Linked DNA regions of Homo sapiens: region 1 is linked to region 2. Evidence: fine-mapped expression QTL. Tissue or cell type: whole blood. Region 2 holds a variant in brackets; the other region holds the start of a gene. All regions are shown on one strand. Distances are from middle to middle.

Region 1 (5,150 bases), 23 kb before region 2:
GGGAACATTAGTGTCTAGGCTTACTTTAGCATATTAGTTAGCACTGCATCCACTGTGATTTCAGAATTGACAAGTCACGTACAGTATTGCTCAAAATGTTCCTTCGACACTACAGGAAAGAATGGGGAAGTAAATGTCAGTCATTAAAGTGTAACCCAAAGAGGTAAGTCCTAAGGACTTCTAACGTCTTTCATAGATGAAGAATTTGGACCCTATTTACACTCTAATTGGGAAAGCAAAAAAGGCTTGTTGTTGTTTTTTCTTGAAAAACATTGGCTCCTTCAAGACAAGAGACTGAAACTCTTCAAAATAGTAATTTTGTGCATTTCTCTCACTGGTTTGAGTAACTTTAGTAAAAATTTAAAGTTACACATAATTAACCAAAGTGTGTGAGATAGGAATCAACGTATCAATGTTAATATCCTGATTGTGATATTATACAATGGTTTTGCAAAATGTTACCATGAGGAAGACTTGGCAAAGTGTAAAAGAGACCTCTCTGAATCATTTCTTAACAACTGCATGCCAGCCTACAATTACCTCTATTACAAATTTTAATTTAGAAATGTGATTGAGACAGAAATGGATGCAGGGATTCTGGCACATTTTCATAATAATCTGGCTTCACCCACATTTCCCAGTTATTTCTCCAGTAGTTTCTTGAATGACTCCCTTCCATCTGGAAGAGGATACTCCCAGCTTTTCAAACACACTGAACGAGCTCATTCACACCTGTGGGCTTTCCCCCCTCCTTTGAATTGTTCCCAGCTCCAGCCCACACCGCCCTGACTGGACCAAGCACAATACTGTCACTGAAACAGTTCTTAGCATGTCTAAAAGTCACTTGGCTAGTAGTTCATCCACTCGTCAACAAAATTTATTGAGTAACTGCTATATGTGTGGTATGGCTCTAGGCACTAGGGATAGAGTGAGTTGGAAACAATATTGAAATTAGTTTCTCTTCCCTGGTCTCTGGGAGTATATTCCAATGAGAGAGAGTAGAAGAAAACTAGCAAGAAACAAGGTAAAAAAAAAATCAATTCATGATGAGGGTTATGAAGGAAGTCATAGGTTAGAGGGGATAAAGTGACTTTATCTCAAGTGGTCAGGGGAGGCTTCCTAGGGGAGAGGACATTTGAGTTGTGACCTCAAGTGTAAGGATGCAGACAACATAGAAGATCCTGGGACAAAAAGCATTTCAGGCACAGAGAATAAGAAAGTTACCCTGTAACTGAATATAAATATTTGGTATGACTGTAAAATAATTAAACAGATGCTCATTTTTGTAGACTGTTTGCTCCTTATTTTAGGACCAAGCCTCCCATAGCCTGTTTCCCTCTATGAGAGACTGAGAACACCCTTAGGCTGGTCCAGATTTTACACTTTTCAGAGCAACCCCTTCCCCAACACACACGTGCACACTCTGGCACGGCCACCTGCATGCCAAGGGGTGACTGCAGGCTGATCTTCCAAGTGGCTCTCATCAGTAGCTGTACCCTTAATCCAGGGCTGTGTATAGGGAGATTTACATTTCTTCCTCGCTGTTGGGGCCGTCTGCCTGCTAGCGACGATTCTACACTAACGGCTACATAAATTACTGTCATTAAAGTTGGGTCCTTGGGTCCCCAGAAACCTAACTAGAGGCAAAGGAGGAACCAACTAAGAGAGGTCCAGGTAACAGAGCCCGGAGCGGGACGGTCATTTGTTGCAGGCCCCTGGGGTATGTGCCTGTCTATCGCGCACCGGGTCCCAGCAGCAGTGGTTACCGGCTGAGAAGGGCTGGGTTCCCAGGACGCTGCGGGTACCTCATGCTATCACCATAGCCGGGAATCCAGTTTTCTGGTTCCCCTCGTCTGTATTTGCCTAAGGCGACTTGCCGCCGTTCCTCTGTCCCCTAGGCAGGGAGAAGTCAGCTCTAGGACACCCTGCAAAACGCCTCGAGGGGTTATCTGCCCCTTCCCGGCCGCGTCCTGGCACCGTTTCCCCATCACCCGGAGGACTGAGCGCTGTCTCAGGGCGCCCTCTGTCTCTTCCAGGGGGCAGCCAAGACGACATGCCCTGCGTCTCAGGGACGCGGTACGAGCCCTGGTATTCCCCCCGCCACCTCACACACCCCCATCCGGGAGACCCACGTGCAGCTGGGCCCGGGCTGGCGCCGCACCTCGGGGTCTGCGCGTCTCCCCGGCGCGTTCCGGGCGCAGCCCCACGACACGGACCCCTGGCGGGGCGGCATCCGAGAAGTCGCAGGCGGAGAGGGGGCGTCCTGGAGGCCGGGCGCGGGGACGCTGCGGCCCGCGGCCACACAAAGGAGGCGGCGGGAAGGCGGGGCAAGGCGGGCCGGGGGCGGGGGCGGCAGGAAGGGGCGGGGGCCCGCGCGGCGCCGCCGATAAAGCCCCCGCCGCCGCGGCAGCCAGCTTGCGCTGTGGGGCTGCCCGGGCTGCGCGGCGTCTGCAGGCGCCACCGCTGCCTCTTTCCGGCTGTGACCCTCCTCGCCGCCGCCGCTTGGCTGCGTCCTCCGACTCCCCGCGCCGCCGAGACCAGGCTCCCGCTCCGGTTGCGGCCGCACCGCCCTCCGCGGCCGCCCCCTGGGGATCCAGCGAGCGCGGTGAGTACAGGCTGCGCGGTGAGTCCCGGGCGCGGCCGGCGCTGCCCTCGGCGGGGGACGCTCCCCGGGGCTCCGCGCGCCACCGGCCCTGCTCCCTGACCTTGCGCCCGGCCGGGAAGCTGCGGGGCCAGCGGGACCCTGGGGCGCCGACGTCGGGGAGCAGAGAACTTTCTCAGCCTCCCGCGGGCCGCCTTGGCCGGGGCTGGGTGCTCGCCGGGCATCCCGGTCCCGCCCGCCGGGAGCCCCGAGCGGGACCCGGGCAGGGCAAGGCGGGGCCGCCCCGGGGTGGCGTCCAGTGATACCCGCAGCTGGGAGCACCGGGGCCGGCGTGGCTCCTGCCCGGCCATCCGAGCCGGCCCTGACCCTGAACCTGAGGTTTCCAGCTGCTCGCCGGCAACCCCTACCCCGGACTTAGGCTGCGCGCCGCCGGATGGGGAGAGACTGGCGCACTCTTACTTGTTACCTCTGCCTGGGCAGAGGGAGGTGACGCGCGGTGTGGGGAAAGCCTTTAACTTGGCCTCTGGCAGCCGATTTAACCCGAGCGAGCAGGTCTTTGCTATTTTCATCATCTGTAGAAACGGGAGTTGCGAGGCGGATGAGTGACTGCAGGTAAAATGAAAGTACGGTACTCAGAAATTCTGGAAGGAATTAGGCATTTAATGTGTCCACAAACTGAGCGGGGAAGGAAGGCTTCTATTACATAAGACAGCACTCCACCTTCAGGTATTATGGAAGATGCTGTTGAAGGTTTTAGTGTTTTAATGAACGAAACACATTCTTTGTGTGTGTGTCTCTGGAGAAATCTCGAATGCTGCTGTCTTGCTTTGGCTACTTTGCAGGGGACGTTCTTATATTTAGCATCAGCATAAAAAGGTGTTCGAAGGTGTGACTTCCTCTTTCAAGCCAAGAAGCCGTTTATTTGTCTGAATTGTTGTGGAACAATATATGTGATAATTGTGTACTTTGAAGATTTTATATCAAAACTTGAGCACAGATAACTGGAAGAATTGTCAACATTGCTAATTTGTATATCCTAAACCACACTTCGAAAATTGAAGACAGTTTCAACACTATCTGAAGGTCTAAATCAGTACTTATTTGCTATTTGCAGTATTTCAATAGAAAAATTTTTGGCTATGCAAATGAAGGTACTAACCTGAGTAATCTAAGGTTTCTTTTAACCCCCAAATTTTGATTCTTTGTTAAAATAATGTTTGAAAATATCGTACCATGCAGGGCAATTACTGAAGGTCATGAAAATGTCATCGTATTTTATTCTAAAAACAAAAATGAATCTATGCAGAAAATTTCCGTGTCCCATGAACTTCATATTAGTTTAATTTTAAAAGTACTGTCTCCAAAAAAAGCTAATTTTCACTTCCACACAAGGGTGATTAAATACCAGTCAGAGATTGTTTGAGGTGGTAGAGTTGGAAATGAGGTGGTGACCTGGCCACGTCCCTGGGTGCATCTCAGCCTTGCTGTCCTCTTCCAGCCAGTTCTTTTCCCATCGCATGGGGACTTTGGCTCTTGGGCTATTTCTCCTCCTCTAGACCTAAAGTCCATGTGGGGGACGCTCTAGATGCGCACTTCCTTGACTGTCTCAAATCCAGTGTCTTCCATGTACTCCAGCTACCAAGTCCTCTAAGTACCTCCAAGTCTTGCCCTCTCTTGAGATGCTCAACTTCTGAAAACTCTTAGTGCCTCCAACCCGCAAGCTCCTTCCTTCCGGGTTGCAAACCGGACTCCCACTGTAATCTTCAATGCAAGCGATCTCCAATGCTTTTCCTCTTGCGGGTTTGGCAGGTGACTTTGTAGCCCATTCTACCAGGAGAATAGAGGTCATAAGTATCTCCTCACGTCCTCCCCCATCTCCCCTGTACAGACTTTTCTGTGTTTACCCAGTCATCCAATAAATCTTCTTAAGCATCTACTGTGTCTGGGTACTTTGTTGGATACTCATAGGTGGTAAATAGAGCAGATCCTTGCTCGCTTGAAACTGTCATTCTTGTGGGAGAAAACCAACTAAAAGCAAACATAATATGTTGTAAAATGTATGATAAATGAATAAGGTAGAATTATAAAGAAAAATCAAGTTAGACTGAGAACTTAGAGAAATATAGAGAGATGGCCTCCTTGGGGCAGTGACTAATGTCTCCAGCTGTGTCCTGAATCCCAACTCCCAGTGCCTCTCTCTCCTTGTGAGTGTTACTCCCTTTTCTTACTTTTATCTTCAGTCTCTCCCTGTGAGCTTTTTTCTTTTTTAGTAGTATTTTAAGAATGCCTTAACCTCCCTTGTCCCTGCATCCTCAGCTCACCTGTAGTGACAACCACGTCTCTCCAGGCTTCTTAAACTGGTCTGCCCTTCCTGTTCAGCTCTTTGCAAGCTGGCCAGAGTCTCCTCAAAGTTCAAGGCCTGTGACTTCCTGAACAAGCAATCTTTTTTTTTTTTTTTTAATTTTTATTAATATGCTTTAAGCTCTGGGGTACATGTGCAGAACGTGCAGGTTTGTTACATAGGTATACACGTGCCATGGTGGTTTGC
Region 2 (5,150 bases):
TGGTTCTGTGGGATAAAGGAAATGATGAAGGACAGTTTCCAGACTTTGGCTTAGGTTCTTGGATGAACAGTTGGTGGTGTCACTTAGAAAGATATAGAACCTGGGAGAACAGCAGGGTTGGGGTGAGGAGTACTTTTTCTTCTCATCCTGGTTTTCTATGATAAAGGGACTTCTATATATCTTTCTACCCCTTTTATTATTTTATTATTATTTTTTTTTTTTGAGAAGTACTGTGTTTTAGAGTCTGCTTGCAAAAATGGAGGGTTTTTCTCCTGGATTACCTCATCTTCCAGTTACCATTGTTACAGGCTTTCCAGTGGAGCTCAGATTTATTTCTAAACGATCTCTTTGAGCAATGATCAAGCATTTTCTATATGAGGTATTTCATCCATCTAAACAAAACTGTGATGAGAGTTGGCCTAAACTCTAGACTTCTATCATGGAATGTGTTGACCACTGAGGCAGGGCTGGTCTGGCTTTAACACACTAAAACTTCTTAAAGAATTATGTTAGTATAATCCCACCCTATTTCAGTTTCAGGCTGGTAGGAAAACACTTCCTTATTCATGAGGTTGGCAGCCTTGGAAAGAACACAAGGAAAATCGCCAGAGCCTGACGCCCATTTCCTCAGTCGCCAGTGACCATCAATCATTTCCTAAGCCCATCATCAGGGCTGTCGATGGAGTCACAGGGCTGAGCTGCTTCCCCTGGGGAGGGCAAGGCCTCTCAAGTCACCTTCCCTGAGGACCTGTGACCAGATGTGAAAGTCTGATAAAGTCACATACTAGAGACCCTTGACTCCCTCTAATAACAAAGAAATAAAGGAAATTGAAAAAAGACCACAAGTCTTAAAGGCAGCTTTAAACATGTGTTTTGATTTTTAGAAATTATAATATTTGAACATTTTGCCCTTGAGGAAATGTTAAGCTGGACTGTAGTATAGGCCTTCAAAGCCTGAAGAGAGGACCCCAGGCCTTCGTGATGATGGTGGTAAATGGGGTAACAGCAGAGGCCAGCTTCGAGTGGGGCCTCAAGAACTGTCCTAAGAACCTGAGACATAGTACTTTTTAAAATCCTTATAACAACTCTTAAAGTAAGAACTACTATTACACCGATTTTCAGATGGAGGAGCTGAGGCACACTGAAGGCTAGCACTTGTCAAAAGTCATACAGATAATTGGCAGTGGAGGTGACATTTGAACTTGGGTGGTTTGTCTTAGGAACCTGCAGGGGCCATGTATAGTGTCCTAAATCCTTTTGTTAATTTCTTATAGAATAAGAATTAATACTGTTATAAGTCAAATAATTATGAGAATGTACAATTATGCAAGCACCCTAAAACTGTAGCTATTCTTTTTGAAAGGACCAAAAATATTACATTTTTGTGTGATTGTACATTTGCAGTACAGGGAAAAAGTAAGAAATAAAAAGATCTGTCTTAAGGTACATTGGCATTTGTTTGCTGACTAAAATTTTACAGTAGGGTTTTTTTGTTGTTATTTTGAGATAGTTATATAGATTCACATGCAGTCGTAAAAAAAAAAAAGTAGTAATTCAGAGAGCTCTCGTGTACCCTTTACCTGGTTTCCTGCAAAGGCATTATCTTGCATAACTGTAGTACAGTACCACAACCAGGAAACTGACATCACACAATCCACCCACCCTATTCAGATTTCACCAGGTTTACAGGTACTCACTGGGGTGTGTGCATTTACTTCTATGCAGTTTTATCACATGTATGGACTTGTGTGGGCACCACCACAGGCAAGATACAGGACATTTCCACCACAGGGACCCCTCATGCCTCCCTTTTATCGTCACACACATCCCTTTCCCTCTCTTGTTCTCTAACTTCTGGTGACTACTGATCTATTCTCCATCTCTGCACCTTTGTCATTTCAACAATGTTATATACATGGAATTACACACTATGCATCTTTTTGAAATAGGCTTTTCCATTCAGCATAGTTCTTTGAAATCCAACCAAGTTGTTTTGTGTGTCAGTAGTTTATTTCTCTTTATTACTGAGTAGTAGTCTGTGGTGTGGATGTACCACAGTTTAGCCATTCACCTACTGAAGAACATCTGGGATGTTTCCACTTTGGGACTATTAAAAAATAAAGTTGCTGTGAACATTGGTATACAGGTTTTTATGTGAAATGATTTTCATTTCTCTCTAATAAATGTCCAGCATTGCTGGATTATACAGTTAAGTGCATGTTTAGTTTTGTAAGAAACGGCCAAACTTACATTAAAAAAAAATAAATAATAAACAGAAACTACCAAACTATTTTTTTTTTTTTTTTGAGACGGACTTTCGCTCTTGTCGCCCAGGCTGGAGTGCAATAGCACAACCTCGGCTCACTGCAACCTCCATCTCCCGGGTTCAAGCGATTCTCCTGCTTCAGCCTCCCGAGTAGCTGGGATTATAGGCACCTGCCGCGACGACTGACTAATTTTTATATTTTTAGTAGAGACAGGGTTTCACCATGTTAGTGAGGCTGGTCTTGAACTCATGACCTCGGGCTCAGGTGATCCGCCTGTCTCGGCCTCCCAAAGTGCTGGGATTACAGGCGTGAGCCACTGCACCTGACCTACCAAACTGTTTTCTAGAGCGGCTGTGCCATTTTATATTCCCACCAGCAATGTGTGAGTGATCCAGTTTCTCTGCATCCTCACCAGCAATTGGTGTTGTCACTAGTATTAGCCATTCATCTGGACATATAGTGACATCTCATTGTGGTTTTAAAAATTTGGATTTCCCCAGTGGCTAATGATGTTGAACATCTTTTAATGGACGTATTTACCATTTATACATCCTCTTTAATGGAATATCTATCCATGTCTTTTATTTCCTAATCCGATTTTTTTTTACAGTTGGGGTTTAAGAGTTTTCTGTGTAGTCTAGATACTAGTCCCTTGACAGATACGTGATTGGAGAATATTTTCTCCTAGTCTCTTCATCATCTTTGCAGGATCTTTTGCAGAGTAAAACTTTTCATTTTGATGAGGTCCAATTGATCAGTTTTTC[A/G]GTTTATCAGTTTTTCGTTTTATGAAACTCAGGCTTTTAATGTCAACTTAGGGTTTTGATTCCTGCCTGTTGTCATGCGCAGTGCCGGGTGGTGAGAAAGAGAGCCATGGAACAAGATAGACACTGGAGTGTGAATGATTCTTCCAGTTTCTGTCCGGTTGGGTTCTGCAGTATGTCTTGATGAGCTGCCTATTTGTTGGAGTCATGGACACAGAGTTGCCCTTGTCTTGCAAAGGCTGTAAGGTGATGATGGTATGAAAGGAAAAATATTTCCAGAATAATCCATGGTACCTCCCAACACAAGGTTTGTTTGCACTTGAGAGCTTCTGTCTGGAATACTCTTCCTTGCTTCCATCTCTCCGCCCCTTTGTCCAGTCACTTCCAGTCCATCCTCCAATGTCTGCCCATGTGGCCCTTCCCAGGAGCACTTCCCTGGCCACTGCCTCTCACCCTGGCCCAGGTGTGCCTCTGCTTCCATTCTTACACACTCTCCTCGATGTCAGAGCATTTGTAAAGTAAATACGTGAAAATGAAAGTAAATATCAAGTAATAAGACGATTTGATTAAGGTCTGTTTCCCCTCTAGACCAGGCTTCCCCAACCTTGGCACTACTGACATTTCGCTGGATAATTCTTTGTTGCAGGCGGCTGTCTTGTGCATTGTGGGTGCTGCTCAGCAGCACCCCTGGCCTCCCCCCACCTAGCAGATGCCACGGCACCACCCTCCCTGGCCCCCACCTACCAGATGCCATGGCACCACCCTCCCTGGCCCCCACCTAGTGGTGAAAACCAAAAAAAATGTCTTCAGATAGTGCCAAATGCTCCCTGAGCGACAGAGTCACCCAGGTGGAGAACCATGCCTTGAGACTCTGAGAGGTGGGAGGGCAGGTACCAAGCCCCTTTTCATGCCTATTCTCTCTCTAGCATCCCAGCGCCAGGCCTGGCACTGTGGTGCTTCATTAATATTTGTAGGATAAATTAAGGGATAAACCAACTTAATAGGGGACACTTGTTTACACGGCAGCCTTGGAAATGCTACCCTGACTTCAAAGGAACAAAGTGGGTTTTGTTGGGCACTTGAGACCCAGGAGAATCTAGAGTCTTCTGTATTCAGGTGGATATGGGTTTCCTTATGCAGTACCCAAGACAGCCCCCACACTGAAGAGTTATGTCAGTAGTGCCGAGATAAAGAAAGCCTGCTCTAGGGCACAAGAGAACACACATTCCCACTCTCGCCCCAGGCGCCACACAATGATCCCTCTGACTTTCCCTCTGACTTTCCTTAGTTTAGAATCAGAGTCTCCGTCTGAAGTCCTAGACTGTTTCTCATCAATGCAATGACTGCATTGATACCAATTTACCTAGTGGTTCTCCCTGGAATTTTTCTTTTTTTCTTTTTCTTTTTTTTTGAGACAGTGTCTTGATTGTTGCTCAGGCTGGAGTGCAGTGGCATGATCTTGGCTCACTTCAACCTCTGCCTCCTCGGTTCTAGTGATTCCCCTGCCTCAGCCTCTTGAGCAGCTGGGATAACAGGTGTGCGCCACCATGCCTGGCTAATTTTTGTATTTTTAGTAGAGATGGGGTTTCACTGTGTTAGCCAGGATGGTCTCGATCTCCTGACCTCAAGTGACCTACCCACCTTGGCTTCCCAAAGGGCTAGGATTACAGGCATGAGCCACCTCGCATGGCCACTCCCTGGAATTTTCAAGCCAAGGCTTCTCTATTTGGGAGAGGAAGGAATGAGGCCAGTTACTTTTGTGTATCCTAGAAGGGAAAGGATGTGGTACTGGTAATTGAAGCTTTGGCCTGCCAGCCCACCTTATCCAATTTGTCAGCCCAGGTTCATCTACATCCTGTTGAGAAGTTTGGCAGCTGGAGGTGGACATGCACACACTACACTGAACCTCCTGCAACAAGCACTGCGGAAGGTGTGAACCCCAGGCTGAGTGACTGGGCAGCTGTTCCTCTGCAGGAATAGAGGAGCCCCAGCCTCCTGACACGGTGCACCTCCTGAAACCCACAAAGCAGCAGTAGGGAACCGTGGATGACATTACCAGTCCTCCCCACCTACCGCCTGGTCACTCCTTACAGGCTGCCTTTTTCTTCCTAAGCCAAAGCCA

The links. PIP is the estimated chance that this variant, and not a neighbour inherited with it, causes the effect.
Region 1: SERPINE2 starts here. The variant in region 2 is fine-mapped to the expression of SERPINE2 in whole blood (INTERVAL, PIP above 0.99).

Annotation. Positions count from the first base shown.
Region 1 is chr2:224,036,554-224,041,703 of GRCh38, reverse strand. It overlaps SERPINE2 (serpin family E member 2), which reads left to right and starts at 2,418. Exons shown (of 9, transcript NM_001136528.2): 1 at 2,418-2,605. LOC124907991 (a long non-coding RNA gene) reads right to left here and starts at 2,302. Exons shown (of 2, transcript XR_007088103.1): 1 at 2,162-2,302. RefSeq lists a silencer at 1,958-2,252.
Region 2 is chr2:224,013,663-224,018,812 of GRCh38, reverse strand. The region is part of intron 1 of SERPINE2 (serpin family E member 2); the gene reads left to right. It overlaps LOC124907990 (a long non-coding RNA gene), which reads right to left. Exons shown (of 2, transcript XR_007088102.1): 2 at 1-5. Among named protein-coding and RNA genes, the nearest start is that of SERPINE2, 23 kb to the left of the region's middle. RefSeq lists an enhancer at 3,226-3,725. The variant A/G (reference allele first, on the strand shown) is at 3,032.